Homo sapiens: one gene and its partners. The protein of the gene in region 1 interacts with the protein of each later gene in a pairwise test. Each region holds a gene or a part of one and is shown on either strand. Other genes may lie near its edges. The genes, in order: FIGLA, TCF23, LHX8 and LHX6.

The links.
Region 2: the proteins of FIGLA (region 1) and TCF23 interact in binary tests that used the Homo sapiens proteins (3 or more experiments, as listed by UniProt).
Region 3: the proteins of FIGLA (region 1) and LHX8 interact in binary tests that used the Homo sapiens proteins (3 or more experiments, as listed by UniProt).
Region 4: the proteins of FIGLA (region 1) and LHX6 interact in binary tests that used the Homo sapiens proteins (3 or more experiments, as listed by UniProt).

The regions. Positions count from the first base shown.
Region 1 is NC_000002.12:70,787,644-70,795,440, forward strand, and holds the start of FIGLA (factor in the germline alpha), read right to left. Parts: upstream 3,001-7,797; 5' UTR 2,996-3,000; coding exon 2,765-2,995; intron 159-2,764; coding exon 6-158; intron 1-5. UniProt on the Homo sapiens protein: Germline specific transcription factor implicated in postnatal oocyte-specific gene expression.
Region 2 is NC_000002.12:27,144,070-27,152,003, reverse strand, and holds the start of TCF23 (transcription factor 23), read right to left. Parts: upstream 3,001-7,934; 5' UTR 2,871-3,000; coding exon 2,649-2,870; intron 1,882-2,648; coding exon 1,639-1,881; intron 1-1,638. UniProt on the Homo sapiens protein: Inhibits E-box-mediated binding and transactivation of bHLH factors. Inhibitory effect is similar to that of ID proteins. Inhibits the formation of TCF3 and MYOD1 homodimers and heterodimers. Lacks DNA binding activity.
Region 3 is NC_000001.11:75,151,383-75,158,403, reverse strand, and holds part of LHX8 (LIM/homeobox protein Lhx8), read right to left. Parts: intron 1,512-7,021; coding exon 1,328-1,511; intron 1-1,327. UniProt on the Homo sapiens protein: Transcription factor involved in differentiation of certain neurons and mesenchymal cells.
Region 4 is NC_000009.12:122,211,951-122,218,971, forward strand, and holds part of LHX6 (LIM/homeobox protein Lhx6), read right to left. Parts: intron 5,339-7,021; coding exon 5,118-5,338; intron 2,487-5,117; coding exon of another isoform or gene 2,476-2,486; exon of another isoform or gene 2,434-2,475; coding exon 2,333-2,433; intron 2,120-2,332; coding exon 2,024-2,119; intron 1,831-2,023; coding exon 1,656-1,830; intron 1,447-1,655; coding exon of another isoform or gene 1,286-1,446; exon of another isoform or gene 1-1,285. UniProt on the Homo sapiens protein: Probable transcription factor required for the expression of a subset of genes involved in interneurons migration and development.

The DNA of each region.
Region 1 (7,797 bases):
TTTACCTTTGAGTCTTTGGCTCCTTCCAAAAGATCACTGAGAACCTGTATATATTCAGTCGCACCTTTAAGGATATCAACTTTGCTGGGCTTCCTGCTTTGGGGAAGAAATGGCACAAGTGCCTTCAATCTGGCAAAACCACGGTTGAGATTTTTTATCTAGAAAACAAAAAGGCACAGTAACACACAGAGAAGCCAATTTGTATAGACATCTCCCCAAGCTACAGAAGGGGGTTGTTTCCACTGCCTCCTTGTCTGAGTGGCAAATCTAAACAGGCATATGCCCCAAAGAGTCAGTGCTCCACCAGCAGTGCAGTTCATAGTAAAGGAAGAGGGAATGGCATAAACTTGGTACTATGGGCAGATGGGCTGCAAGGTGTGTTCATGTTCATGCTGAGCTCACTCCTCTTCTTTTGAGAGCATACCCGCTGTATCATAATGCGGAGGCAGTAGAGGAGTGGCTAAAATATGAATTAACTACACCCAGGTTTAAAATCCAGGTCTATCATTTACAAGAGTGTGTGGAATACTTCACATCACTAAGCCTGTTTGTTCATCTGCAAAATGGAAAATATCTTAAAGCTTTTTGGGGGGTGTGATTAAGTGATATAATGTACAAATAAGATACCTCACCCAAACCTGGCACATAGAAAGTCCTCAAGAAGTGGTATTGCTGGTGATGAATCAAATGTACAAATACTTGTCAACTCAAGCACTGAGCCATCAGCTCTTCAAACTCTTTCCCCACTGAGTTAATGATATAGAGGCAAGGGTGAGAATCCAGAGAGTTGGTGAGACTTCAAAGGCTCCTCATATTTTATTTTTCTCTCTTCTCCAGAGTCTAATCCCTGTCTCTGAAGGCCTATAATTCTGATGTTCATCCCCCTGGGAGATACAGGCCTTGGGAGAACTGGCTCCCACTATGCCACAAAGCCAATATATATTGAGTATATCCTACCCTGGAGCAAACCAGACAAGGGACATAGTTGGCCAATTCACAGGAGAATACAACAACCACTCAGTGTATAAAAAGAATTTAATAATCAAAGAACTACAAACTAAAACAGAAATTAGATACCATTTTTTATGTATCAAGGTGGTAACATTTTTGTTTTATCATACCCAGGATAAGGGATAGCTTGAAAAAGAGAACAGTCCTAGACCTGTAAGAAGGGATAAAAATTAGTAAACCTATCTAGAAAGCAATTGGGTAACTTGTATCAAAAGCCATTCCATTGTATATGCCTTAAGTCTCAGTAATTTCACTTGTAGCATTTTATTCTAAGGAAATTATCAGACACGCACATAGAGTTACACCGATAGGTACCGGTAAAAAGCTACAAACAGCAAACATGCCTAACAATAAGAGACTGAATACATTATGGTCCATTTTTGGACAGACTATGCAGTCAAAAACTATTCTTTGAAAGAATACTTAAGAATATAAGAAAATGCTTTTGATAATGTTAAGTGGAAAAAATTACACAAATATGTACTGAATATTTTGTAAAAATTATATATATATATATATGAATACACAAAACTAGAAAAAGACTGGGTGGATATACACAAAAATGTTCACAGTAGTTATATCTGTGTTGTGTCTCTTAACTTCTTCACTCATTTCTGTCTTTTCCAAGTGTGTTAACCTTATCATTATAAAGAATAATAAAGCTTATTCGTGTTTTAGTGGATAAAACCAGGACTGATTCTCTGGAGAAGACAATTCCTTCCTGGTGGGAAGGACCACTTAAACTATTAGATCATAATCTCTTTGTAGGGCCACCGAATCAGATCACAGGGTTCTGTCCATCAAGAGTCTAGTACTGGTAAAAGAGGAGACTTAAAGAAGTCTCCTACTCTCCTGTCGTCCTTTCTGCGCTTGCCCTCTCCCTGCAAAGCTCCTACTTGATTCACTGGGACATTTCTGAAAGGCCTAGGAACAGCCCCGGGCGGTACTTCTCTCCCCAGTCCCAGTCCTGAACGTGCGCTCTGCTCCCTCTTCTACCCCTCACCCTTCTCTCTCCTGGATTCGCCTCTGCTGCAACCAAACCCGTAGACTGCAAACGCTAGGAAGGAGACCATGTCTCCCAAGTTTGGGGCTGAGTTTCGTTAGATAGTAAAATCTACCAGCAGGTGCCGCTCCAACCACGGCCCACAGGACCCTTCCCGTTTGCGAGTTGCTGCGGCTCGACTGGGAAACACTCACTTTATCTTGACAGAGTTGAGTGGGAGTCTTGGGTGCACACTGGGACGTCGTGTTTCGTTACTTTAAAAAAGAAAAGTCACTTCCGTCAGGCCCCCCTTTCTCCTCACCCTCGTGTGTGCTTCGAGGCCGAGATGCAGAGAGCAAGAAAAAGGAGCGAAGGGGATCCCTGCGCGTCCCAAGCACCCACCAGCGCCTACGGTGTGAGATGAAGGCGCACCCCCTGGGCGCGAAGCTTTTAAAGCACCTGCCCAGGGAGACATTTTTGAAGTTGTCAGGGCCCCTCCTCTGTCCCCTCCCAGACCCGGGTCCTGCACAAATCCTGGAGGGTTAGCGGGCGAGGCGGCCACCGCAGCGGCCGCCAACGAGCAGCTGCACGGAGGTGCAGAAGAAGGAGGCCACTGCCATTCTCCTGACAAGCTGGGGGCGTGGGAGGCCTCGGGAGCTCGAAGTCGCCTCGAGCGGGGGTGGGCGGTGAGCGGACCCCCGGGTGTTGACCAGGTGTTTGGTGGTAGAGCAGGGAAGGGGGGAACGGACGTCGACCCTAGGGATCCCTCACCCGCTCACGCTCCTTGGCGTTGGCCACACGCCGCCGCTCCAGCACCAACTGGAGGTTTTCAGTGGACGAGTAGCCGCCCGAGGGCAGCCGCTTGAGCCGGCAGACAGCGGCCAGCTGGGGCAGCGGCCCGAACTGCTCCCGCAACACGTCCTCCAGCACCTCGGCTTGCGGGGTGCCCAGGAGCGCGGGCGGCGCGGCGCGGGGATCTAGGACGCCGGGCGCGGGGTCCATGGCAGGGCCGAGGCCGCTGAGGCCGGGCTTTCACCTGCGCACCCGGGGCCGCACGAGGCCCGGGCGGGGGCGGGGCGGGGGCGGGAGCTGGACCACCTGCAACCATTCCCCGGCTGCGTATTCCAATCCCGGCCTCCTCTCTGGAGGCTGCGTCCAGGCATCGCGTTGAATAAGCCGCACAGGTGTGACTCGGGAGCGCTGGAGCGCAGCCCCGGCTGCACACCTGGAACCGCCGGGAGCGTGGTAGTGGTGTTTTTCTCAATCCACATGCCACGGTTCCAGTCCCCCAAATTCCCATTTAATCAATCTGTCTTGGGGCCTGAGCTTCTGGCTATGTGTATACAGAAAAATGTGATGGATATCCACAAAACTTTTTTAAGAATTCGTTTTGAAATAAAAGTTGCGGGGAAAATGGCAAGAAGAGTTTCTAAGAGCTCCTGTACCCCCTTCGCCACGCTCTCTACTTGCTAAGTTTTCACGTTTGCTCCGTTGCCCTCTTTCTCGCTGTGAATATTCTCATTTTCATTATTCTTTTTCCATTCTATTTGAACTATTTTCTTTTTTCGCGAGTGGGGGGATACATCGCTTTATTCATTTTCCCCCTTTTCCACACAGACCTTTATTGTCAACACAGCCAAACACAGTTGTTACTTCAGAAAATGTGCTGGAAAATAGCGATCCCAAACTTGTTTAATAGTAGAGTACAATTTAGTACTCTAGAAATAATTAACTACATCTTCTGTTTTGAGTAGATTACTCATGAGAGTTTGTTTCTCTGGAGGTTATCAATATAACTGGAACATTCTGATCTTGCACCTGAAAATCAGACATGTTTCTGGAAGCCCTCTGTAAAATCATTCCTTCCAAGCATAGAAATACATTTTTTTTTCTTTGGTCTGAGAAAATATTTTTTCTACGCTTTTGTTTCAGGTTCAGGGGTATATGTGCAGGTTTGTTAAGTGGGTAAATTGTGTGTTGCTGAGGTTTGGTGTACGAATGATCCCGTGGCGTAAGTAGTGAGCCTAGTACCCAATAGGTATCCTTCCAACCCACGCCCCCCTCTTACTTCCCCCTCAAGCAGACCCCAGTGTCTATTGTTTCCATCTTTGTGTCCCTGTGTATTCAATGTTTAGCTCACACTTATAAAGTGAGAACAGGCAATGTTTGGTTTTCTGTTTCTGTGTTAGTTCCCTTACAATAATGACGTCTAGCTGCATCCATTGATCTATTCTTTTTTTAAAGTTTTTAAGTTGCAGACATGCTGTCATATCACCTCTAAATACTCCAGTGGGTATTCCCCCTAAACAAGGCCTCTCTTCCACATAACCGCAACACAACCACTCAAACTAGGAAGTAAGCATTGGTACTGTGCTACCATACAATCCATGGACCCCATCAAAGTACCACCAGCTGTCTCAACAATGTCTTTTTCTCTTCTGGTTGGAATCCAATCCAGGAGTACAAGTTTTATTCTGTTGTCATATTTCTACTCTCCTTCATTCTGGACCATTTCCTCCATCTTGTCCTGTCTTCATGCCCTTGACAGTTTAAAAGAGTAGGGGCCTTTCATTCTGTAGTATGTCCCTCGACCTGGGGTTGTCCACTATTTGCTCATGTCCAGACCCCAGCCATGCCTTCATGGAGGGGCTCCATATAAATGATGCTGGGCTCTTCTCAGTGCATCACATCAGGAAGTACATGAGGTTGATCTGCCCCACCACTGGTGATGTTAACCTTAATCGCCTGGTCAAGGTGGTGGTGTCAGGTTTTTTCACCATAAATTGATAAATATTTTGTGGGCCAGGCACGGTGGCTCATGCCTGTAATCCCAGCACTTTGGGAGGCTGAGGCGGGCGGATCACGAGGTCAGGAGATTGAGACCATCCTGGCTAACATGGTGAAACCCTGTCTCTATTAAAAAATATTAAAAAATTAGACGGGCGCGGTGGCGGGTGCCTGTAGTCCCAGCTACTCAGGAGGCTGAGGCAGGAGAATGGTGTGAACCCGGAAGGCGGAGCTTGCAGTGAGCCTAGATCTGTGCCACTGCACTCCAGCCTGGGCAACAGAGCAAGACTCCGTCTCAAAAAATAAAAATAAAAAAAAATTTTGTGAGGAGATACTCCTTCTCATCCATTGTTGACTCCTACCTGAATCAACCAGCACTACAATTAGAGGCAAATGATTGGCATTCTACTGTGAAAAAGAGCTTTCCCTTCTTCCCATTTATTTATTCATTTTGTATTTATGTCAGCATGGGCTCATGAATTTCTATTTTAGTCACAGGATATAATTTATTTACATCATTATGTTAATGCTCAAATTGTCTCAGATTTGGCTTATGGGAGGCCCTCTAAGCTGGCTCCTCTGTCCTTTTCATATGACTCCCTCATTCTTTGTGCACTTTCTCACTTGTCCCAGGAAGGCTCTTCTTGAATTTTCCCAGCCCCAGCCCAGGGATCAGTCTATTCTTCTTTTAGTGGAAGGTAGGATTTAGAAACCAAGATCTGTGTGCTTGCTTGCTCATTCCTTTTGGGATGTCATTGCTTCTAAGCCCTTTTTGCAGATATGACACATATGTAGGTAAGTACACATGCATGTATTATATTATAATAATGCATATAATATCCTCTAATATAATATAATGCATATAATAACTATATCTGTGTATCTAAGTACATATATATTTAAAACCATGAGTTCACACTAATACCTCCAACTCCAACCCAACACCTCAGGTTCCCTCTAGTTTCTCTGCTTTCCTTTTTTGTAACTCCTCACCCCATATCTGCTTTTGTAACTCCCTTCTCCAACAATGAGAAGCTTGACTCACATTATCCTCAGTGTAATTACTTATTTGCTCAATCCCTGTACCTAACCAATTTTCTAACCACATCAGCCACCTCTTAGGCCCCACCCTTCTTCAGCTCCCACTCTGACATTGCCTCCCAGGAAAGGTCAAAGGAAAGAAGGGGACACACCAAATGTTTGACTGAGGTTCCTTGAGCATGGCCTGGGAATGGGGAAGTGTGACTGCACATCACATCCTCTATATAGCTTATTTCACAATAAACACGGGCCACTTCTGTAATTTAAAATATATTTTTAAGTAGGAAAATACTTTGTTTGCGCTAAGTTCATTTGGTGTTGTCTGCTGGCAGGCAGATGGAAAGCAACAAGGGCCAAAAGTGTGGGAAAAAGCTTAAAATGGAGATAGCTTACCCATTTACTTAACTTTCCTTGAAAGCATCATAAAGGACATCATTGATATTATTCTATTTTATTGCCAAACCTTGCAGTGAACAAGGTGGTGTACATTAGGAACCCATTGTGAGCACACCAGATTTGATTCCTTCATACCTGTGTTCTTCCATAAACTCCAACTCTTAACTTTCTGGCCTCTGGTCTGTTAGATTCATACGTTATGTCATTGTTCTCAGGGAAAGCAATCATGTGAACTGATTTAAGCTAAAGTGTTACACCTGATGGTGACTTAGGGCTGATACCTTGCCATACACCCAATAATACAATGGCCTAATGAACAAAAAGTTTCACTATCCTCTAACAGTGTGAAAGGTTTAGGTCAGCTCTGCTCCTCAAGGTCACTTGGGGACTTAGGTTCCTTCCAAATTATTGTTCTTCCATCCCTTAGGGTCAACTCCCCTACAGCATTGTCATCATTGGCATGGCTGAGGCTCGGTAGCCACCGTATCTGGGTTCCAGGAGAAGGGCACGGAAGAGATCTTAAGGCCTGACCAGAGGTGGCACATAGGATTCAACTCACATGCCATTGGCAGGAATTCACACATGGCTACACACGGATGCAAGAAAGGGTGGGGGAATGTAGTCTGACTGGGGAGCCATGTGCCTGGCTACAATTCTGTTCAATGGGGAGAACGCATTTGGTTGACAACAGGAGTCTCTGTCCTAGTGCCCCTCTTCTGTGCTCCAGTAGTGCCCATAAGCCTCTGCGAGATCATTTATTTCTCTTATTTTGGCTCCTTGAAGGAGGATCACTGGCCACAGCATCTCCAGCACCTACGGAGTGCTGGCTTGGCACACAGTAGACATGCAATAAACATTTGTTGAATGAGTGAGAAGGCAAATGAATGAATGATGCTTGCAATGAAGTAAAAAAGCTACTTTGACATGGGTAAAATAAGAACCTGCTTATTCAGGTAAAATCTTTCACGTTTTGCCATAGCTGCTTGACCCTATAATATATATTTGTGAATAAATAAATAGATGAATGAAAAAGCTTACCTAAGTTTACATAGAAAGTAGGAAGATCTCTCTGCCATGGAAAATTGAAGGATAAGTGTCCTCTTAGATGCTGGTGATATACTATGGTTGATATACACAGTACTGGCTCAGTTGCATTCATCCTATACTGCTCTATGGGTCTAGTAGGGAGTTTCCTGTTCCAGGCTGCCTGAAGTATGTGAACATCTTTAGGTCCCAGAATGCATTGCTCTCCTTGTGTTTGCTATTCCTGCTTATTGCTCTTCCTTTGTGGGACCAGACCTCTTGGGATGCAACTGATAACATCCTCTCTTTACTGCTTTTTTGTTTCCTGAGTCCTAAATACCTTGTAGTCCAGTACAATGCCAGCCGAATGGAGTCCACCCTTGGAGTAAGGATGGGGACACACAGCTATCTCAAAACACAATGCCTTGAAGAAAGGGGATCCCTGTCTAGTTTGCTGATTGATACAGACACTAGGTCTCTGAGTCAATGGTGCAAAAAGCAGGATAAGGCTAAAGGACCTTTTACCAATTTCTTATTGTTGCTCTGTTTCAAAAAGC
Region 2 (7,934 bases), about 44 Mb from region 1:
TATACATTTTAGCTACATTTGCATTGAAGAAAAAAACCAAGTTTTAAGACATTTCAGAACTATGACATTTAGGGGAAAGAGGTGGTGAAAAGTATCATAAAAATAAAGTTGAGAGGTGAGAGGATCACTTGAGCTTAGAGTTTGAGACAAGCCTGTGGAACAAAGTGAGACCCCGTCTCTACAAAAAAAAAAAGAAAAAAAAAAGCCAGGTGTGGTGGCATAAGGCTGTAGTCCCAGCTACTGGGGAAGCTGAGGTGGGAGGATTCCTTGAGCCCAGGAGTTTGAGGGTACAGTAAGCTATGATTGCGCTACTGCACTCCAGCATGGGCGACAGTGAGACCCTGTCTCAACAATAAGTAAATAAATAAATAGTTGGGTGTGGTGGCTCACACCTGTAATCCCAGCACTTTGGGAGGCCGTAGTGGGTGGATCATCTGAGGTCGGGAGTTTGAGACCAACCTGGCCAAAGTGGTGAAACCCTATCTCTACTAAAAATAGAAAAATTAGCCGGGCATGGTGGTGCACGCCTATAATCCCACCTACTCGGGAGGCTGAGGGAGGAGAATCACTTGAACCGGGAGGTGGAGGTTGCAGTGAGCCAAGATTGCGCCACTGCACTCCAGCCTGGGCGACAGAGTGAAACTCTGTCTCAAAAAAATAATAGTACATATATAAATAAATAATAAAATAAAAAAGTTGATACCACTGCAATGTTATCCTCAGAGGGCAAAGATGACCCTTCCTTTTTAACACAGTGCACTCTTCAACCAGCTCCTTATGGCGCTGTCCCTGGAGACTGTTTAGTGGCTATGAGCTTAGGGTCTGAAGTCAGACACCCCTGAGTTCAAACCGCTTTCAGCCTCATAACCTCCCTAAGCTTCAGTTTCCTCATCTGTAAAGTAATCCTCATTTGGTTTTTGCATGGATTAAAAGACAAAAATACACTAACGTACTTAACCCAGCTCCTGGCCTATCTTTAGCACTCAACTGTTAGCTGTTATTGCAAAGATGATTAATGTTCATTAGACTTTCCATTTTGTACTCTGGAAGAGAAGTAAGGCTCATGTTAGCTTCTATTTTACGTGTAATAAAACTGAGGTTGAGAAAAGCTAGATTGCAGTCTGGCAAGTGGTGCGCGCCTTCCCTGTACTGCTGCCTGCTAACTCCCCCAGCTTGGTTGCTTCTAGAATGACGGTCCCTCAGACCGTTGTTCTCCTGGAGGACAGACCTCTCTTGCAACAGAAGCCTAGAAAGCACCAAGGCAGGCACAATGGGCTGAAGCTGCATGGGGATCTAGGACTCTCCTTGGTATAATTTCCTTTCCCAGGCCCCAGACTTGGAACCTGCTACATTTTTCCCTGTGACTCTAAGAACCCCAGAGTCTTTCCCTCCTCTTCAAGGAGGTGCATTCCCATGAAGCCATTTCCAGCCACACTCCCATGAGAAACCCAGGGTCAGCGCAGCCCCAAGGGTCAGCCTTGGCTCCTCTCCCTCTGAGACAGCAGGAGAAATTGGCTCCGACGTCAGTTCTGCACAGGGCAGGGGGCCCAAGTCCAATGTCCCCCCTCATTCCAATCCCTTTCTCCAAGGCCCTGGGCATTAAGATCCGCCTCTCAAGTCCCAGGGCTTGTGACTTACCTTGAGAGGGTGCAAGTAGCGGAGTCCACGCAGGAAGGGCGGCCAGGCAGGGCCAGGCAACTCGTGGCCGAGTGTGCGGGTGAGGTGGGCTATGTAGCTGGCGGCGAGCACCAGCACGTCCAACTTGGAGAGCTTGGTGTCGGGCGGCACGGCAGGCAGAGCAGCCTGCAAGGCCAAGAAGGCCTGGCGCAGCGTCCTGACCCGGCTCCGCTCCCGCGCGGCATTCTCAGGACTGGCCTCGCTCTGCACAGAGGGCCCCAGTGAGTGTGTGTGACCTGGACTCCCAACTGCCCTGACTTCTGAGAGCGTTTGAGCACAAGGTCTCCCACCAGAGTAGAAGGGTGTCTAGCAGTAGGCACCAGAGGGCCTCTGCCCACCTACGTCATCTGCAGCCCTGCCGCGTTTCACAGCTGAGGAAGTTGGGGGAAGGCCTGGCCAGGGGTCAGATGGCTGCAGGATGGCAGAGCTTGGCTCAGAACCCAGAGTCCTGTGTTCTCTCTACTACTCCACTCATGCCTCCTCAGAGCCTTTGTCCTGTCCCATGCCCAATCTGAATCCTGCTTATCAGGGTGTGCTGGGGCCAGGGGGAGTTCAGAGCTACACCCTGTTTGGGAGGGCGGACCCTTGACCTAGCCAGGTCCTGAGACGACGAGGCTGCTGTGGGAAAGAGGAAAGACACAGAACCAGGGGTCAAAGCACACAGGCTGAAGTCCCAGTCCTACCACTGGCTGCTGCTCAGTGACCTTGGGAAATTCACATCCCTCTTCCCGGCCTCAGTTTCCTCAAGAGAAGTGAGTTAGTGCAGCTCTCTGAGCTGCACTCTGGTTAAGACCAGCTCTGATCTATCCCAACTACCCAAAGCATGATGCCTTGGAGTCTAAGGGGCCAGTGTCCCCTCTCTTGGGCAGGAATGGTAATACTGAGTGAGGCTGTACCATCAGAGGTGACATCTCCCCACCTTCCAACCCCTTCCTCCCCTGGACCCCTCTGCAGGTGCAGGATTTCCTTACCCTGCCAAGAGCCAGGCCCCCAGCCCTGGTCCCTCGAGGGCCAGGGGTAGCTCTGCTCCATCTCTGGTTGCTCCAGCTTCTTTCTTCCCACGGGTCCTGCCTTGTCCTGCTGAGGCGGCTCCTCTTCCTGTCAGCGCCTGGCAGCAACCGTGCTTTGGCCTGAGTCTGGCTATGCCCCACCCCTGGCATGGCTGGTGGCCCTCTGGCCTTCCTCTGTGACATGCCACCCCACTGGGGCTGCAGCCCACAGAGCAGAAACACAGTGCCTGAGGAGGCCTTGGACTCAAGCTAGCTGGCTGTGGCTGGTCATCCAGCCAGCAATATCTACATCCGAGGAAGCTGGCGCCAACTCAGTCCTGTTTGCTCCCTGCTCTGGGAAAACCGCCCACCAGGCACAGCCCCCGCGAAAAGCCTCCGCCTGCCTCCTAACCCAGCTGAGAGGTGGGGGTGCTGGATGCTGGGAGTGGCCAAGCCTTGGGAGGAGGCCCATGCTGAAGAAGGCAGGAGGATAGTGGGGAAGGGAGCTCCTTTCCGGCCATGCCTAACCTCAACAGTGGTCCTATGGTGGACCTGTGACTTCCGCTTTGGAGCTCACGTCCATGGAGAGGACTTGAACCTCCTTCGTCTGTGCCAGAAGGCTGCCTGCATACATCCCTGAAAGGCCTTTCCTCCCCTTGCCAATGAACGTGACCTTCCAGCCACAGAGCGCGATTTGCCATGCCCCAAATATGCCTCCGATTTCCACTCTGTGTTTAAATTTACCTTTCCACGCCCCAGAATACCTTCCTCCAGCTCTGCCAGGAGGTACTGCCCATCCTTCAGGTCTCCGCCTTTCATTCGTGAAGACTTCAAATCCCGCAGGCCCAGAGCCCATGGGTCCCTGTTTGATTGGTACAATCACAGCCTGGCTACTTTCCCAGAAGTTCGATATTCATAGATTACTGTGTGCCAGGCACTGTGCTAAGCATCTTATTTATTTCTCAGAGCAACCTTTTAAGAAAAAAAGAGACTCAGTTTAGATGTGTGGGAACTGGTATACTGGGAGGTGAAATAACTTGCCCAATGTCAAACATCCGTTAAGTGGTGGGGTGGGATGAAAATCCAAGCCGTCAGTTGGACTTTGAAGGCTACCCCTCACCTGATGCTAGCCTGCCTCCCATGGGTTACTCACGCGTCTGTCCCCATGCTAGACATGAGGTCTCTGAAGGCAAGGACCATGGTGTTCCTGAGTTGCATCACATCCTCCAAGAGCTAGTTAGGAGAAGGCGGGCTGAAGGAATCGCGAATCTGCCACAGCAGCCCCTGCTGTCTTCCAGGGACCTCTGCCTGTAGCAGAATCCAGCCTGATGTCCCTTGTCCCCCATTCTCGAACCTCAGGGGAGATCAAATAAGTAAGGAGAAAGTAAAAAGGTGGATGTACAGTGAGAAAGATATGCAGCCCACCACAGAGAAAGGGAAAAAGAGGCCGGGCGCGGTGGCTCACGCCTGTAATCCCAGCACTTTGGGAGGCAGAGGCAGGTAGATCATGAGGTCAAGAGACGGAGACCATCCTGGCCAACTTGGTGAAACCCCGTCTCTACTAAAAATACAAAAATTTAGCTGGGTGTGGTGCCACGTGCCTGTAGTCCCAGCTACGCGGGAGGCTGAGGCAGGAGAATTGCTTGAACCCGGGAGGCAGAGGTTGCAGTGAGCCGAGATTGCCTGGGCTCCAGCCTGGGCGACAGAGCGAGACTCCATCTCAAAAAAAAAAAAAAAAAAAAAAAAAAAAGGAAAGGAAAGGAAGGAAGGAAGGGCCGGGTGCAGTGGCTCACACCTGTAATCCCAGCACTTTGGGAGGCTGAGATGGGCAGATCACGAGGTCAGGAGACTGAGACCATCCTGGCTAAGATGGGTGAAACCCCATCTCTACTAAAAATACAAAAAAATTAGCCGGGCGTGGTGGTGGGTGCCTGTGGTCCCAGCTACTCAGGGGGCTGAGGCAGGACAATGGCGTGAACCTGGGAGGTGGAGCTTGTAGTGAGCCAAGATCGTGCCACTGCACTCCAGCCTGGGCGACAGAGCAAGACACGGTCTTGAAAAAAGAAGGAAGGAAGGAAGGAAGGAAGGAAGCAAAGAAAGAAAGAAAGAAAGGTAGGTAGGTTAGTAGAAACAACCTGCATGTCCATCAGTAGGGAAGTCGTTAAATAAATTTTGGCATCTCCATACTATGAAATAATGTACAGTAATAAAAATAATGACAGCCCTTTGTTAAATGACATGAAAAACTCTTCAAAACACACAGTTGTGAAAAAAGCTAGTTGTAGATCAATATATATAGTAAGACCCCAGCCACGTAAAAAAATACACCAAAAAATAAAAAATAGAAATGTAAAGTTTTATGTGCTTATGTGAACATATAGAAAGGAGATGGAAAAGATGTGCATCAGGCCGGGCGCGGTGGCTCACGCCTGTAATCCCAGCTCTTTGGGAGGCCGAGGTGGGCGGATCACCTGAGGTCAGGAGTTCGAAACTAGCCTGGCCAACATGGCGAAACCCTGTCTCAACTAAAAATACAAAAATTAGCCAGGTGTGGTGGCAGGTGCCTATAATCCCAGTTACATGGGAGGCTGAGGCAGAAGAATTGCTTGAACCCGGGGGCGGAGGTTGCAATGAGCTGAGATCACGCCACTTCACTCCAGACTGGGCAGAAGAGCGAAACTCCATCTTAAAAAACAAACAACAACAAAAAAAACCCCAAAAATTATCCAGGTATGGTGATGCATGCCTATAGTCCCAGATACTCGGGAGGTTGAGGCAGGAGTCGCTTGAACCCAGGAGGTAGAGGTTGCAGTAGGCCGAGATCGTGCCACTGCACTCCTGCCTGGGCGACAAAGTGAGACTGTCTCAAAAAAAAATAAAAAATAAAAACAGTGCAGTTACCCCCTTGCTCCCTCTTGGATCGCTCACTCTGGGGGAAGCCAGCTGCTATCTTGAGGATATCCAAGCAGCCCTGTGGAGAGGCCCATGTTGTGAGGAACTGAGGCCTCTCACTGACAGCCACCACGACTTGCCAACCGTGGGAGTGAGCCACCTCAGAAATGGATCCTCCAGTTCCAGTTGGACCTCCAGATGACTGCAGCCCTGGCTGTCGGTTTGAGTGCAACCCATGAGAGACCCTGAGCCAAGATCACCCAGCTAAATTGCTCTTGCCCGTAGAATTCCTGACTTATAGAAGCCATAGAAGATAATAAATGTTTATTGCTGCTTAAGTTTGGGGGTAATTTGGAAGCAGCTATAGATAACTAATGTAGTATGTGTTACTGAAGCCTGTGCATTGTTGTATGAATAAATTTTAAATTTACACAAATGATAATTGTATTAGCCAGGTGCAGTGGTGCATGCCTGTAATCCTAGCTTCTCAGGAGGCTGTTGGGGCAGAGGGGAAGATCACTTGAGCCCAGGAGTTCCAGGTTACAGTGAGCTATGATTGCGCCACTGCACTCCACCCTGGGCAACAGAGATAGAATCTGACTCAAGCAATCCTCAAAATTACAAGTTTCAAGCAATTAGGCAGAAAATCAATAAGGATATAGACGACTTGGGAAACACTATAAACCTACTAAACCTAACAGACATCAAATAACACTCAACAACATAATGCTACAGATTCTTCTAAATTGCACATGGAAGATTCTCCAGAATGGATCATATGTTAGAGTCTCCAGAATGGATCATAAAACAAGCCTCAACATGCGCAGTGGCTCACGCCTGTAATCCCAGCACTTTGGGAGGCCGAGGCATGCGGATCACCTGAGGTTGGGAGTTCAAGACCAGCCTGACCAACATGTAGAAACCCCATCTCTAGTAAAAATACAAAATTAGCCGGGCGTGGTGGCACATGCCTTTAATCCCAGCTACTTGGGAGGCTGAGGCAGGAGAATCGCTTGTACCTGGGAGGTGGAGGTTGCAGTGAGCCGAGATCGCTCCATTGCACTCCAGCCTGGGCAATAAGAGCGAAACTCCACCTCAAAATAAAATAAAATAAATAAAACAAGCCTCAGTAGATTTAAAAGGACTGAAGGCATACAAATAATATTCTCTAACCACAATATAATTAAATTAGAAATCAATAACAGAGCTAACTTTTGAAAATTCACAAACATAGAGAAATTAAACAACACATCCTTAAATAATCAGTAAGTTAAAGAAGATATTGCAAGGAAAATTAGAAAATACTTTGAGACGAATGTAAACAAAAACACAACATACCAAAATTATGAGATCCAGCTAAAGCAGTGAAAAAGAAGGAAAATTTATAGCTGTAAATGTTTATATTTAAAAAAAAAATGGCCAGGCGCAGTGGCTCACGCCTATAATCCCAGAGCTTTGGGAGGCTGAGGCGGGCAGATCACCTGAGGTCAGGAGTTTGAGACCAGCCTGCCCAACATGGCAAAACCCCATCTCTACTAAAAATACAAAAAAATTAGCCGGGCATGGTGGCAGGCGCCTGTAATCTCAGCTACTCGGGAGGCTGAGGCAGGAGAATCGCTTGAACCCGGGAGGCGGAGGTTGCAGTGAGTGGAAATAGCACTGTTGCACTCCAGCCTGGACAACAAGAGCAAATCTCTGTCTCAGAAAAAAAAAAAAAAAAAAAAGTTAAAAAAATTTGAAAACGAGAAAAAATTTCAAATCAGTAACTAACCTCTTTAGGAAACTAGAAACAGAAGAGCAAACTAAACTCAAAGTAAGCAAAAGGAAGGAAATAATGATGATTAGAGCAGAAATAAATGAAATAGAAAATAGAAAAACAGGCCGGGCACAGTGGCTCAAGCCTGTAATCCCAGCACTTTGGGAGGCCGAGGCGGGTGGATCACCTGAGGTCAGGAGTTCGAGACCAGCCTGGTCAACATGGTGAACCCCCGTCTCTACTAATAATACAAAAATTAGCCAGGCGTGGTGGCAGGCGCCTGTAATCCCAGCTACTCAGGAGGCTGAAGCAGGAGAATTGCTTGAACCTGGAAGGCGGAGGTTGCAGTGAGCTGAGATCGCACAATTGCACTCCAGCCTGGGGGACAAGAGCGAGACTTCATCTCAAAAAAAAGAAAGAAAGAAAGAAAGAAAATAGAAAAACAATAGAGAAAATTAGCAAAACCACAAATTGGTTCTTTGGAAAGATCAACAGAATTGATAAAACTTTAGCTAGATTGACAAGGAATAAAGGAGAGGGGACTTAAATTATTAAAATAAGAAATGAAAGAGGGGAAATCACTACTGACCATACATAAATGAAAAGGATTTCAAGCAAAT
Region 3 (7,021 bases), on another chromosome or scaffold:
ATAAACTACATTAAAATTAGGAACTTGTGCTCAATGAAACATTCCATTAAGAGAGTAGAAAAAGCCAAGCAACTAAGTAGGAGAAAATATTCTAAGCACATACAATTATCAAAAAGCTTTATATGCAGATTACATGAAGAAATTAAGCAAATCCATTTAAATAAATAATAAAGACAAGCCAGTAGGCCAAAAGACAAAAAGACTTGTACAGCTCTTCACAAAAGAGAATATACAAATACCTGATGAAAAAATGCTCAGTCATCAGGGAAAGGCAAATTAAAATAAGATTGCACTGCACAATCATCAAATTTGCTAATATCAGGAAGTTACACCATACCAAGTGTTGGTGAGGATGTGAAGCACCTTGAACCTTGCTGCTGGTCAAGGTGTAAACTGGTTCAACCACTGTGAAAAACTATCTGTCAGAATGACTGAAGTTGAGCATATGTGTAGCCCATGACCTTATGTCCCACTCCCAGGTACATATCTAGTAGAAATGTGAATTAATGTGCACAAAAAGCATGTACAATAAAGTCCATAGCAGCATATTCATAAAAGCACAAACTGGAAAAAACACAAATATCTATTAACCAGGAAATGGATAAATTGTGGTATATTCCTACAGTGGATTTCTATATAACAATGAAAACAAATAACAGATTCTCACAATAATATAGGTGAATCTCACAATGTAATTGAAAGAAGTGAGACACAAAATACATTCTGTGTGGTTCAAAAAGGGCAAAACTAAAGGGTGGTTTTAGAAATCAGTGCCATGTTACTTTGGGAGAAAAGGATAATAATTGGAAGGAGACATAAGAGAGGCTTCTGAAATGCTAATTATATCTGCTACTTTGGGCAATATCTATATGGATACATTCATTTTATTAATTCATCAAGCTGAATAGTTATTACGTATGCACTCTTCTAAATGTATGATTTTCTTCTATAAAAAACAACTCTTTAACAAAACTTATTAAACTCCCATCTAAAGATCTGAGTGAACACTTGCTCTGATCACAGGAAATAAAGTATTTAAATATTTACCGGTAAAAACAAACAAAAAATTTCTAAGTAAAGATCAAGCATTGAGTCATTATTAATATTTGCATCTTAGCTGCAAAGTGAGTATTAAACTTCTTCCTTAAAATGTAATCACAGAAATAAAAATGTTTGGATAATTTTGCTCTCTACTGCACCCCCCACAATATTTTTCAGCTACTACTGAGGTAATATTTCAAAATGTGAATTGTATCAATAATCTAATATTAGAAGTTACCAGTTGCTGATTGCCTGGGAGACAGCTGTTAAATGTTGGGATACCTACCATCCATATAACTATGCAGCGCAGTTAACATCGTTCCATCTTGGGGCACGTAGGCAGAATAAGCCATTTCTTCTAACATGGGTGGAGACAGCCTGGAGGGTGGGACTGCTGTGACTGGGGTGGAGGATGAGTGATTAGGACTGACGTGTTTCTTGTGGCGTGCTCTACAATTCTGAAACCACACCTGAGCAGGGAGAAAAGCAACAGAAGTAGGTAGGTTACACACCAGCTTCTGAGCACATTATCAACTCAGTTAAAAAATGAATGCAACCTCAATCACACTACCACACAAGCACCGCATAAATGTAACTCAGCTTTTATAAAAGTTCTATAGACAGAAAAGAAACATTTTAGTCCAAATAACAGTGGTCATTTTTCTTGCTCAGTTGATAGCTCTCTGGTGATTTACCTAAAAGCCAATTCTATTTAAGTAGGAAAGGGGACCAATTGCTTAAGGGATTTTGGTTTGTTGAATTTGAGTTGGTCAAACGTTAAGGTTACCCCTTGAATGCAATTATTAAACTCTATTGGATTTGACTGGGTGCTGTGGCTCATGTCTGTAATTCCAGCACTTTGGGAGGCTGAGGCAGGCAGATCACCTGAGGTGAGGGGTTCAATACCAGCCTGGCCAACATGGTAAAACCCCGTCTCTACTAAAAATACAAAAACTAGCTGGCCGTGGTGGTTGGTACCTATAATCCTAGCTACTCGGATGGCTGAGGCAGGAGAATCACTTGAGCCCAGGAGGCAGAGGTTGCAGTGAGCTCAGATTGCACCACTGCACTCCAGCCTGGGCGACATAGCAAGACTCTGTCTCAAAAACAAAACAAAACAAAACAAAACAACAACAACAACAACAACAACAAAGCCCAAACAAAAGTACCCCAAAAACTCCATTAGATTTTTTAAAAATAAAAATAAAAGCCAATTCTATACTAAAACAGCATCTTCCCCAGAAAAGGTGGGGAAGGGCCCTCAAGAATTCCAGAGAAATCTCCTTGGTTTTACTACTGGTATTTAGGACAAAAGGAAAAGCAGAAAAAGCTCTTTTAATCAGAACTTAAAAAAAAAAAAAAAAAGACTACTAAATGTATTCTTAGGCACCTGCTGGACTTATTTCAAATCCTTGTTCAAATGACTAAAATCCCTACTGAGAACTTAAAGCTTTCTACAAACCTCTTGATTCAGTTATTCCAGTCAGATTTTAACCTGCTGAGTTCAATTTCTCTTGGTGAATACATAGGCTATTCCCTAAGAAGCATGTTAAGGTCAGGTCTTTAATAAGAAAAAAACTCATAATATTTAAGTAGAATTAAATACAAACACATCCACTGATGAGAGTTCACAAAATGTAAAGTGCTAACCACCCTGCTGTCCACTCTACTGCAGAAATAAAAGAAGCAAATTCAGGGCAAGTGGAGCTTTACATCCAGGTCAGGGCAAGTAAGTCTAGGCTGCCCAGAATGCTTCCAGTAGCTAATATGCCTGTGTTTGAATTCCCTGACAGGTGATAAAACTTGACCATAGAGAGTGTTTCTTCATGGGCCGGGCGCAGTGGCTCACTCCTGTAATCCCAGCACTTTGGGAGGCCAAGGCGGGCGAATCACAAGGTCAGGAGATCGAGACCATCCTGGCTAAAACAGTGAAACTCCATCTCTACTAAAAATACAAAAAATTAGCCAGGCATGGTGGCGGGTGCCTGTAGTCCCAGCTACTTGGGAGGCTGAGGCAGGAGAATGGAGTGAACCTGGGAGGTGGAGCTTGCAGTGAGCCAAGATCATGCCACTGCACTCCAGGCTGGGCGACAGAGCGAGACTCCGTCTCAAAAAAAAAAAAAAAAAAAAAAGAGAGTGTTTCTTCATTAAAATACTGTATCACTTTTTTTCCATCACTCCAAACAATTCTGTCATGAGAGGAAAGAGAGGCGAAGGGATAAAAACTTAGCATGAGAACATTTTGGGATCAGGGATATGAGGCCAGGAAAACATCAGGGGCATAAGTCTGTTCAAGGCTGGTGGTAGGGCCTTGATGGCACAAGGCAATCAGGGCTGATTAATGTGAAATAAAAGGAAGCTGCAAAGAATTTATAAGAAAAAGCTGGCCTTACTTCAGAACTACACCCTGCCCCTGGCATTCAAAAATAGAAGGTTGGCAAAGTATACTCTCAAGAGTGATTAAAACTAAAAGAATAAAAAATTAATAATCTAGTGGGGTATATAGCCTTGAGCAGGAGGCTGAAAAGTAGCAGCTAAGGAATGTTTCTGGGACAAGACTTAGGTATCCACCAGTAAGACAAGTGGGAAGTCACAGCCTCCTCCACATCCCTGTTCTCTGGAGTGTTAGTGAGACTCAGAGATACCTATAGACCACACCCCAAACTCCACAGTTCTGCCCACAGGCTCTGGAACAATAGATGTCACTACTAACACTAGTCTCACCCAAATAGGATGACATTACTCAAACATTCTCCAATGTGTAAGGGGGAACCACTGCCACCGGCCTTTTTCCCTTATGGGACCCAGAAGACACATACGCCAGAGGACTACATATAACCTAAAACATGTTGCACTATGATTCCCAGAGTTTCTTCAAAGTATCTTTTTGTCTCCAATAAGTTATATATTGAATGGAACCTATGCAGTTGTAAAACAAAAGAAACACCATCTTTTGATTGAAAAAAAAAAACACTCAAACTTTGTAAATAAACATGAAGAAGGTATAATATAAACAGCAGAATAACTATCTTGTTAAGCAGCTTCTTGGAAAGATCATCCACAGGTAATCAAGCAGAAGGAGGTTTGCAAAAACAAAGTATCATGTAACTAACTGGTAGAGCAAAATATAGTTTAAGATTCCAGACATCAGGAAATTCCTTCTGGCATGAATGCTACCCAGCTTCAGAATCAAGTATAAGTCCTTTTGACTCTCCTCACTGACAAAATTTCCTCCTTCTTGTTTGCAAACCTCCAACAAGAGTTAACATTTTCTGAGTAACTACTTTAAATTTTTTGACTTCTAAATCATAAACTAAGCTAAAATCAGGCCATGTAGATATAATGGAAAAGCAAAATACTAATGCAGAGAATGAAACCTTTAGAAAGCCCAGACAAAAAGCCAAATATAATAATTTTGTATATGACAAAGATGGGATTTTATTTTATTGGGAAAGCATGTTTCACTGATTTAGGGAAAACTGATAGTTTATCATTTGAAAGAGAGAAAAAAATAGATAAAACCCTATCTCCCATGAACCAAGCCAGATAAATTAAAGTTTAGGCGTAAATAATTGAAACAATAAAAGTTTAAGAAAACAAAAGGCAACATTGAAATACTCTCTAGATAGGGAAGCATAAGAAAGGCCAAAACTAGACCCGGCGTGGTGGCTCACACCTGTAGTCCCAGCACTTTGGGAGGCCGAGGTGGCAGATCACAAGTTCAGGAGTTCAAGACCAGCCTGGCCAACATGGTGAAACCCCATCTCTACTAAAAATACAAAAATTAGCCAGTCATGATGGCAGGTGCCTGTAGTCCCAGCTGCTCGAGAGGCTGAGGAGGAGAATCACTCGAGCCCAGGAGGCAGAGGTTGCAGTGAGCTGAGACTGCACCATTGCACTCTAGCCTGGGCAACAGAGCAAGACTCCATCTCAAAAAACAAAACAAAACAAAACAAAAAGGCCAGGCGTGATGGCTCACTCCTGTAATCCCAGCACTTTGGGAGGCCGAGGTGGGTGGATCACGAGGTCAGGAGTCGAGACCAGCCTGGCCAATATGGTGAAACCCCGTCTCTACCAAAAAATACAAAAATTAGCTGCGTGTGGTATCACGCACCTGTAGTCCCAGCTACTCAGAAGGCTGATGCAGGAGAATCGCTTGAGTCCGGAAGGCGGAGGTTGAAGTGAGCTGAGATCGTGCCACTGCACTCCAGCCTGGGTGACAGAGTGAGACTCCATCTCAAAAAAAGAAAAACAAAACAAAAAAAAAGGCCAAAACTATCAAAAGACTGGGAGATTTAAACACATAGAAATATAAATGTTCTGTGTGGAAAAAATAAAAAGGAAATTGATGAACCGTGAAAGGTTAACATGACAGATAGGATTAATAAATATCAGTAAGATATAGAGAAAATAACCCAACAGAAGAGTGAGCTAAAAACATACGGTCTTAAAAATGAAAAAATAAACTAATTTGTTCAAGCTCATTGATAATATAAGAAACAGAAATAAAATCAATGAGATTTTCTTTTCTAACTATTAAATTGTAAAGGATGTAAAAGAGTAACAGTATTCAGGATTCTTCTGAGTTGGGGAAAAGGAACTCTTGTACGTAGCTCCTGGCAGAATAAAGTTGTATGAACTTTCTCAAAGGCAAAGAGATTTCATGTTTGTATAAAGGCCCTATGCATGTTTTATCTTTGGACTCAACAATCTCCCTTCCAGAAATTTATCCTGAGGAAACTATTGAACAAGCACGCAAGGTAGATATACAATGTTGCTCATGGCAGCATTTTATAATAGTGAAAAATTGGAAGCTAAATAAATTGTGCTATGCTCAATATATGTGGCAATAAATATGATGTTAATATGGAAGGGTATTCCTAGTACACTGATTGGAAGAAATAGCAATAGTTTACTCTGTCTCTGCACAACATAAAAATCATAATTCACTTATCTGAAAGAGTATGTGAACAGTGATTGTATCTGGATGCAGTGTGTGGGGAAAAAAATCACTCATCTTTATTCTTTGACTTCAGTATAAGGACAGTCTGCTTTATTACAAATGTCTTACTAAGCATATTTGTAACTAGGAAACGTGAAACTCTCCACGTATCACACCAGTTTCCTCCTAATCTTTGGGTGACCTAGTTTGCATATTAGAAGAAGTCTAGTAATAAAAACTCTTTTTTCTTACCTTTCTAAAATATTATGCCCAATGCTAGGAAGGAGGCTGAGGGAAAGTATGATTACTATTTGAGATCACAGTAATTCTTATAAAATACTCTGAAGGGCTACAACATATAGTGAGCCTATGTATAGATACAAATAATAAACACATAAGCATGCTAGTACTCTTTCCTTTGGAATCATATCAAAAATATTTAATGTTCAACCTTAACATATTGAAAGCCAACATTCAAAATATATTCTCCAAATGGTAGGGCTTAGGACAAAGTTAACTTGCTCATAGTACTAGTAACCTAAATGCCTGGAAATTACATGACAGATGTCTGCCTGTGTTCCTTAGTCCTTCAAATATGAAAAGCTCTAAGAAAACTCTCCTTCTTCTTTGCTTCCAACTTCAAAATGATATAAGTCATGCATCTGACTTACCTGAAGCTATCATTGTTATGAATATACAGAGTCTTAAATTAGAAGGAACTTTTAGCCCGTGGAGTCGGAACTACCTGCCAAAGAAAACTGTTCTCCCAGGCAGAGGAAACTCACTACCTTCCTTGGTAGTCCGTGCCATTTGTGTAGCCTTTCAATAATGAGAAAATTCATTATGAGTGAACACCAGTGCCTTTTTCTACATTCCGTTGCAGGGAAGCCTTTCACAAATATTTAAAGACACCTACTCTGGATATTACTCTTTCTCTTACCATCTCCTGGCCTTATCTCCAGATAAATATCCCTGCTGCCTTTAATATTATGGCATGATCTAAATCTTTCACAACCCTGGTAGCCTTTGAGGTAGTAT
Region 4 (7,021 bases), on another chromosome or scaffold:
ATGTCGCTCCTATTGAGCAGATAGTTCAGAAATGGAACTATATAAAGAGACATGGTTTCCAACTGGCAGCCTGGTGCGAAGACAGGGCTCTGCACTCCTAGTTCTGCCAACCAAAACCACTCCCACCATCACAAGAGCAGCCAATACTTATGCGGCACTTGCTGAATGTTGAGGATTTTCAGTTACCTCGTTTGATGCTCAGAACACTGCTTTGAGATACTGTTGTCCTCATTTTTACAGATGAGGGAATGAGTATGCAAGAAAGCTAAGAAACTCACCCACTGTCACACAGCTAGTAAATGGCAGGGCTGGGATGTGAAGCCTGGCAATCTGAAACCAAAGCCCACACTCGATCATTAAGGCATACCGGCTCCCACTAACTTACAGTGGGCCCTTGGTTTCCTCATCTATTCAAGGAGATGGTGGCCTCTGATGTTTAGAGACACAGTCAGTAGAATATATGGCATATGGTCAGTAAGCAGCAGTTCTCTGTCTGATTTCCCTTCTTTTTCCCTCTTACATGGAGCCAGAGAAGGGAGGAATTGTGTCTGTGTGCATCGCAGTCATTTACATTTTTTTGGTCATGCCCAGCTTAGAGGAAACAATTGATGGGAACAACTTCAAAGGGAAAGACAATCTGTGATAGGCACCTGCTCAGCAGCAGATTCACTGAACACTCATCCTCCAGAAATCCCCGGGGCTCCTCCCTCACTCCTCCAGGTTCCCGCTCACAAGTCACTTCACCATGACCCGCTTGCCCCTGCATCTCCGCCACAGTACTCCCTGCCACGGACATGCCTGCTCCCTCCCTGTTACTTTATCATCTCCACCATCTCCCATGCTGGAGTGCAAACCCCAGGAGCACAGAAGCTTTGGTCTACTGTGTTCACTGTCGTATCCCAGTGCAAAGAACACAGAAGGCACTCAAGATATAGCTACTGAATGCATGAATGGTGTCTCACAACCCTGTGAGGCTGGCATTATTGACATCCCAGGTTACAGATGAGGAAACCAGGGCTCAAGGAGGTTAGGTGACTTGCCTAAGGCCTCACAGCCCTGGACACTCCCATCACACTGGCCTTCTGCTCCCCAGAACACACCCATGCCACGATGCTTTCTGGGCCAGGGCCTGCGTGCATTCCGTTCCCCCACTCCAGGTACCTCACTAAATCCTATCCATCCTTTCAGTCTCTGCTTGCTGAAAGGCAGCCCAGCCCCTTCCCTTCCACCCCGCAGCATCTCCAGTCACTCCTACCCAGCACCTTTCCTACAGGAATCATCCCACTTAAAACGACACACTCATCTGCCTATTTTTCCATGCCCACCAGAACGCAGGCTCCACAGAGTAGGTACCTTGTCCAGCCTGTTCTCTCCCCAGTCTCCGGGCACTGGCACATTGTGGGTGCTTTGAAGGCATTTTTTGAATGGCTGCTGAATCGCTTGCCTCTATGAAGGATCCCGCTCCACTGAGGCAGAGCCGAAGATTTGACCCTTCTTCCCCCAACTCCTAGATCCAAATGACTTCGGGTCCCGCTTCTTCACCCACGAGGCTCCCCAAGGCCCTCCACCCCACGCCTCGGCCTCAGCCGCCCACGTGCGCTCCTCCGCGCCCCCTCCCCGCAGGCCCAGCGGCTCCCGGCGCTGCGGTTACTTACTCTCAATGTAGCCGTGCAGGGTGACCATGCGCGCCCGCTCGGGGCTGCTGAACGGGGTGTAGTGGATGTCGTCGGACAGGGCGGAGGGAAGGCGGGACGGGGGCGCCCCCGAGGGCGGCACTGGGTGTTGCGGCGTGTGCTTTTTATGACGCGCCCGGCAGTTTTGAAACCACACCTGGAACGACAGCCTCGGCAGCCTCAGCCTCGAGGAAAAGAGTCGGACGCGCCGCCGGGAGACCCCAGGCGGGACTGCCTCGTCGCCTCCTGGAGAAGGATGGCCACGTGCACGCACCACCCTCCGCGCCGAGCCCAGCTACGAGCTCCGGGGCGTGCCCGCGGTCCCCAGGCCCCGCCCACCCCCGTCCCACCTGGATGACTCTCCGGCTGAGGCCCGTCATGTCCGCCAGCTTCTGCAGCGTCTGAGCGTCGGGGTTGTTGTCCTGCGCGAACTGCGCCTGCATAACCTGCGGGGCGGGGAGGGCGGTGAGGCGCTCGCACGCAGAGACTCCGAGACCCCGGCCCAATCAGCGGCGCCAGTCCACAGGCCACGCCCCAGGCAGCTGCGGCCCCGCCCCGCCACCCGGGTCCGGCCCGAGGGGCGGAGCCAGGAGACATTGTCGGCCCCGCCCACTTTCGGCCCGGCCCCCGCCCCCGCCGCCCACTGCTTGCAGCGGTACCTGCAGCTGTTCCGCGGTGAAGGACGTCCGCGCGCGCTTGGCCGGCTTGGGTTGACTGTCCTGTTCCGAGGGCACTGCCCCCTCCAACGTGAGGCCGTTCCCTGGGGGCGATAGAAGCAGCTGACCACGCGTCCCCATCTCTTCTAGTGGCAGCCTGGAAAGGACGGGGGTGGGGGGAGCTTGTCCCTGGAAGGGTCAGGAGCGGGAGTTGGCTGGGAGCAGGGATCCCAGGGTCCTAGTCCCTGAGCTCAGTCTTTGGGGAAGGGGTTTCTGAGCGTCCGCTTAGTACTGGACACTTCTTACACGACTGGACCACGTCTTACAGCCCTAAGGAGAGGTGGCGTTACCTCATTATACATGGGAGGAAACTGAGGCTCAGAGAGAAGGAAAGCCCCTGCCCTGGCCCTTTCAACTAGAATCCGAAAGCTAGCTGACCCTAATGTCCCAAACTGGGCTCCCTGCTGGCGAAACTGGGGGACACCAAAGGCTAGAGGAGATAGGAAGCAAGCAAGTAACGGAACTATGCTCCTAATTTTATAAAAATAAGCGGAAGGAAAAAAGGTTGTAAGAATATACAACAAGGTGTTGGCAGTGGTTTACTTCCCAGGAATGTGATTATGGAAACTTTTTACTTTCAGTATTCCTGTAACTTTTGAGGTATTTAAAAACAATCATATGTTGCCTTACTTCTGTAAGGTTTAATTTTGTTAACCGGCGTATATGTTAGATATTCTCTTTCCACTCATATTACTTTTACAGTCATACTAAAACACTAACCATATTCCCATTTTATTTTTAATACTTCATTGTTCTGAATATCCTCAAAATCTCAGAAAATTTCCATAAGCACAAAGAAGAAAATAAAAATCACCAGTAATTCCAGCACTCAGAAATAACCATTGTTCACAATTTATTGTAACTTTTTAATTAGGAAAAAATTATGTTGAAGGAAAAAAGCAAACATTGTAACATACATGGAAAAAAATCTGAGAAGATACACATTAAAATATGAAGAAGGCAGCATTTGGAGCAATCGTTATTTTCTTCTTTTTGCTTACCGTCTTTTCTAATTTTTCTACAATGAACGTGTGTGTATCTGTGTGTGTGTTATGTTTAAAAAGTGAAACAGTAGCCAATACTGAGGGCTGATCAGTAAGAGAGATCGGAGGCCCCAGCTTTCAAGTTCCTCAGCATGTTAAGTCTGTGGACAGGTGTGGCTGTGAGAGCTAGGATGTAATTGGCAAGGTTGTAACTACAGGTGGTCCTGGTTGGACCATGTGTGGAAGGAGCCTGTGGTCGCTGATGGACCACAGTGTGGGAAAGCTCTGACTCCTGGGTTTCCATCCCAGCTCTACTGCTGACTTGCTGACCACTGCAGATAATTTCATTGCCCATCACTGCAGATAAGCAGGCAGCAAGTGAAACCCAAGTTCACTAGATGCCCCCTTAGACCCACTTAGTCCTGATCCTGGCAGGAGAAAATGATGGCCCTGGTATGCCCATGGCCAGGAACACTCTTGCGGTCCCTGACTAGTCTCCAGGCTGGGACCTAGAAGTTGAGGCAGGGTGGTTCATACTCCTCCCCAGAAAAACTGGGGGTTGGGCAGACACTCTGTGGTATTAATGTCCCCTAGGAAAGCAGGCAGGGCAAGGATTGGTGTGTTGGTTTTTTAGATGGGAAACTAAAACAGAGGCAGCTACATCCCAGAAGCCTCCTTGGCTTTATGAGATCTGATTAAGGTGCCCTAGAGCTTAGGGCCAAGGTGGTGTGGTATGGTATGATATGGTATGGTATGGTAGTTAAGAGGCTGGGCTTTGGAGCTAGGCAAATCTACTAGTATGTAATTTTTGGCAAATCCTGTTTCTTCTTCTGTAAAATGGGGCCGTGCCACCTACTTCCTAGGGCTGTTGTAAGGATTACATAAAATAATCCCTGTTACAGAGAAGTTAGCAGCTTTCACAGACCCTAACAGGGAAATTAGAGAAAGAGTCCCTGCCTCTGCCCACAGCCAAGCACTGCCCTTTCCCAGCTCCATCCCATCTGTGACCCTGTCCCCAGGATCCGTGGAAGACCTGGATCTTGTTCCTGGGCAATCTGGGGAATCACAATGTCAGAGCCAGAAGAGATTTAGGGATCATTCTAGTCCAGTATCTGTCTTGCACAGATGTAGGGACTGAGGCCCAGAGAGAAAAGGAAACCTCATATGTCAACACAGTATGGGAGAGCCTGGTCTCCAGACTCAGAAACCTGGTCCTTTCCCCTTATAGTTAGAGACCCTGGTCCAGGATGAAAACCCTTCCTCAAACCTCTGGCTTGGAGCTGCTAGGATAGGAAATGGGAGAATGGGAGCCAAGTCATCTCTCCAGGACTGGCCCAAGCCTGGTCCCAGGCAACCGGAGGGGATGAGCCCCCAGGCCAATGAGAGCTGTCCAAAGGTGGAGTAGGCTGCCCGATTATGAGAACCATCTCTAGGGTTCACTGAGTGCCTCCTGGCTTTACAACACATCAGCTAGCTCATCTATCTTTGGGAAGGTGTTCTGTTGTTAACGCCATTTTACTGATAAGGAAACATAGTTACAAAGGAGGGCAGTGACTTCTGACTCCTAAGCAAAAGATCGACCCGGAAGTGCAAGATCTGTTCGCCGCCCCACCCCTACGCTGCCTGCGGGACTATACCGGGAGGGCCCAATCGGTAGAGGAGTGTGGGTGGTTCCTGGGGTGCTGGGGTGGGGTGGGGTGGGAAAGGGCTGGGGGCAGAGGTGCCAGGCGGAGCAGGTTGGGTACCGTTCTCGGCGGCCCTCTTGAGGTTCTCAATCATGGTGTCGTAGTGGATGCGGCAGAGCACCTTCTCCTCGACCAGGCCGAACTCCTCACCAGTGGACAGCTGGCGCTTGCACGAGAAGCAGGCGAAGCAGGCCAGGTGGTAGGCGTTGCCGCGAGCTCTCCGCACCCAGTCGCTGGCGTAGATCTGTCGGCCGCACCGGGCACACTTGGTCCCGAATCGGCTGCAGGTCGAGAGGACAGGCACGGGGTGTCGAGACTCAGACAGGCCAACCTTCCTCCTTCCACCACCCAATGGCCCGCCAGCCCCCAGGCTCCTGGCCTCTAAGTCTTCAACTCAGGCATTAGCCTTAGCTTGGACGCAACAACACTCTACACCTAGTCCCACCTAGGAGATGAACTGGTGGGTGATTTTTATTTTCTTCTTGGTGTTTTTCTGAATTTTCCAAATTTTCTACGATGGTCACTTATATTTGCATATTAATTTGTTTGTTAAAAATACATCACAAGTTAGAAAAAACACAATAATAGTAATAATAAGCAAGTTGTTGAGCACTTACCACTTGCCCAGCAAGATTCTAATTGTTTTACATTGATTATCCCAATTAATCCTCATTTTGCAGGTGAGGAAAATGGGGACTAGAGAGGTAAAGTAACTTGCAGGAGGTCACACCGCTTGCAATGATAGGAACCCTAGCGATCCTGCTCCAGAGATGAATATAAGCTATAGCGCCAGCTGTACAGAAGTGCAGTTTCTTAGATGAACAGACAGATAAGCACTTACTGGCTTTGTGACACTAGGCAAACTGTTTAACTCTGAGTTCTCGTTTTCCTTGTCCTGCACTGAACTAGATGACAACAGCAATGACTACTACTGTTTGTTTAGTGCTTTGCAGTTGGCTAAGTACCCAGCAAGTCCCTCTGGAGCCTGTGACATTCTATTAATAATACCAAATGTTAAAAAGACAAAAATAAAAATAAAAAGCCCAGATCGAATGTCTTCTTGCCCCTCAAGCCTTCCTTGATTCTACGACTTCTCCTTCTCCCTTCTGGTTTTGTAGTCTGGCAATTTGGGTGCAGCTGCCTCCAACACCAGACTGGAAGCCCCTCCAGGAGGCAGCGGAGTCTGGTTTACTCCATCCCAGAAGTCAGCCCAGGGCCTGATCCCGGGCACCAGGGAAAGTGTGTTCTTTAAAGTGGATGACTCACCTGTGACTCTGTCCCAACCCTAGCAGCCTGTTTCCTCTGGTACACCCTCTATTTCAGAGAATGGTGCCACCACTTACCCAGCCCCTGAAGCTTGAAAATCATAATCATGCACTCCTCTCTCTCCTCAACCCCTCATCCAGCCAATCATCGATGCTGTTGGTTCTGTTTCCCAAGTATCTCTGGGATCCATCTCCTTCTCACCATCTCCACTGTTGCCCTCCTAGGCCAGGCTCCCATCATGCAACCCTCACTGTCAACCTCCTCCCCGGTCTCCCTGTTTCCAGTCTCGCCCCTGCCAACCCATCCTCCACAGAGCAGTCAAAGCAAAGTTTCCAGCATGCACATGAAATCCTGTTTCTGCCTTGCTTACAATCCTATGGTGGCTCCACTCTACCCTCAGGATCTGGTCCAAAACCCTTGGGGTTTGCAAAACCCAAGCGACCACATCCTCTTCAGGCCCATCTCCTCCCTAACCTTCAAGATATGCCGCCCCACCATCCAGGCATGTGTCCCAGTCAGCCACAATGGAAGGTCACTCCCAGGTCTTTATGGCCTCCTCTGAAGCACTTTCCCACCCCCAGGCCTTTGCACTGACCTACCCTCCCCCAGAGTCCCACGGCACCCTGCACCGCTCTCTCAGCGCTGACCACACTGGTTTGTAAATGTTTCGTTTCTGGCTCTTCTCTTCCACCCCTTCC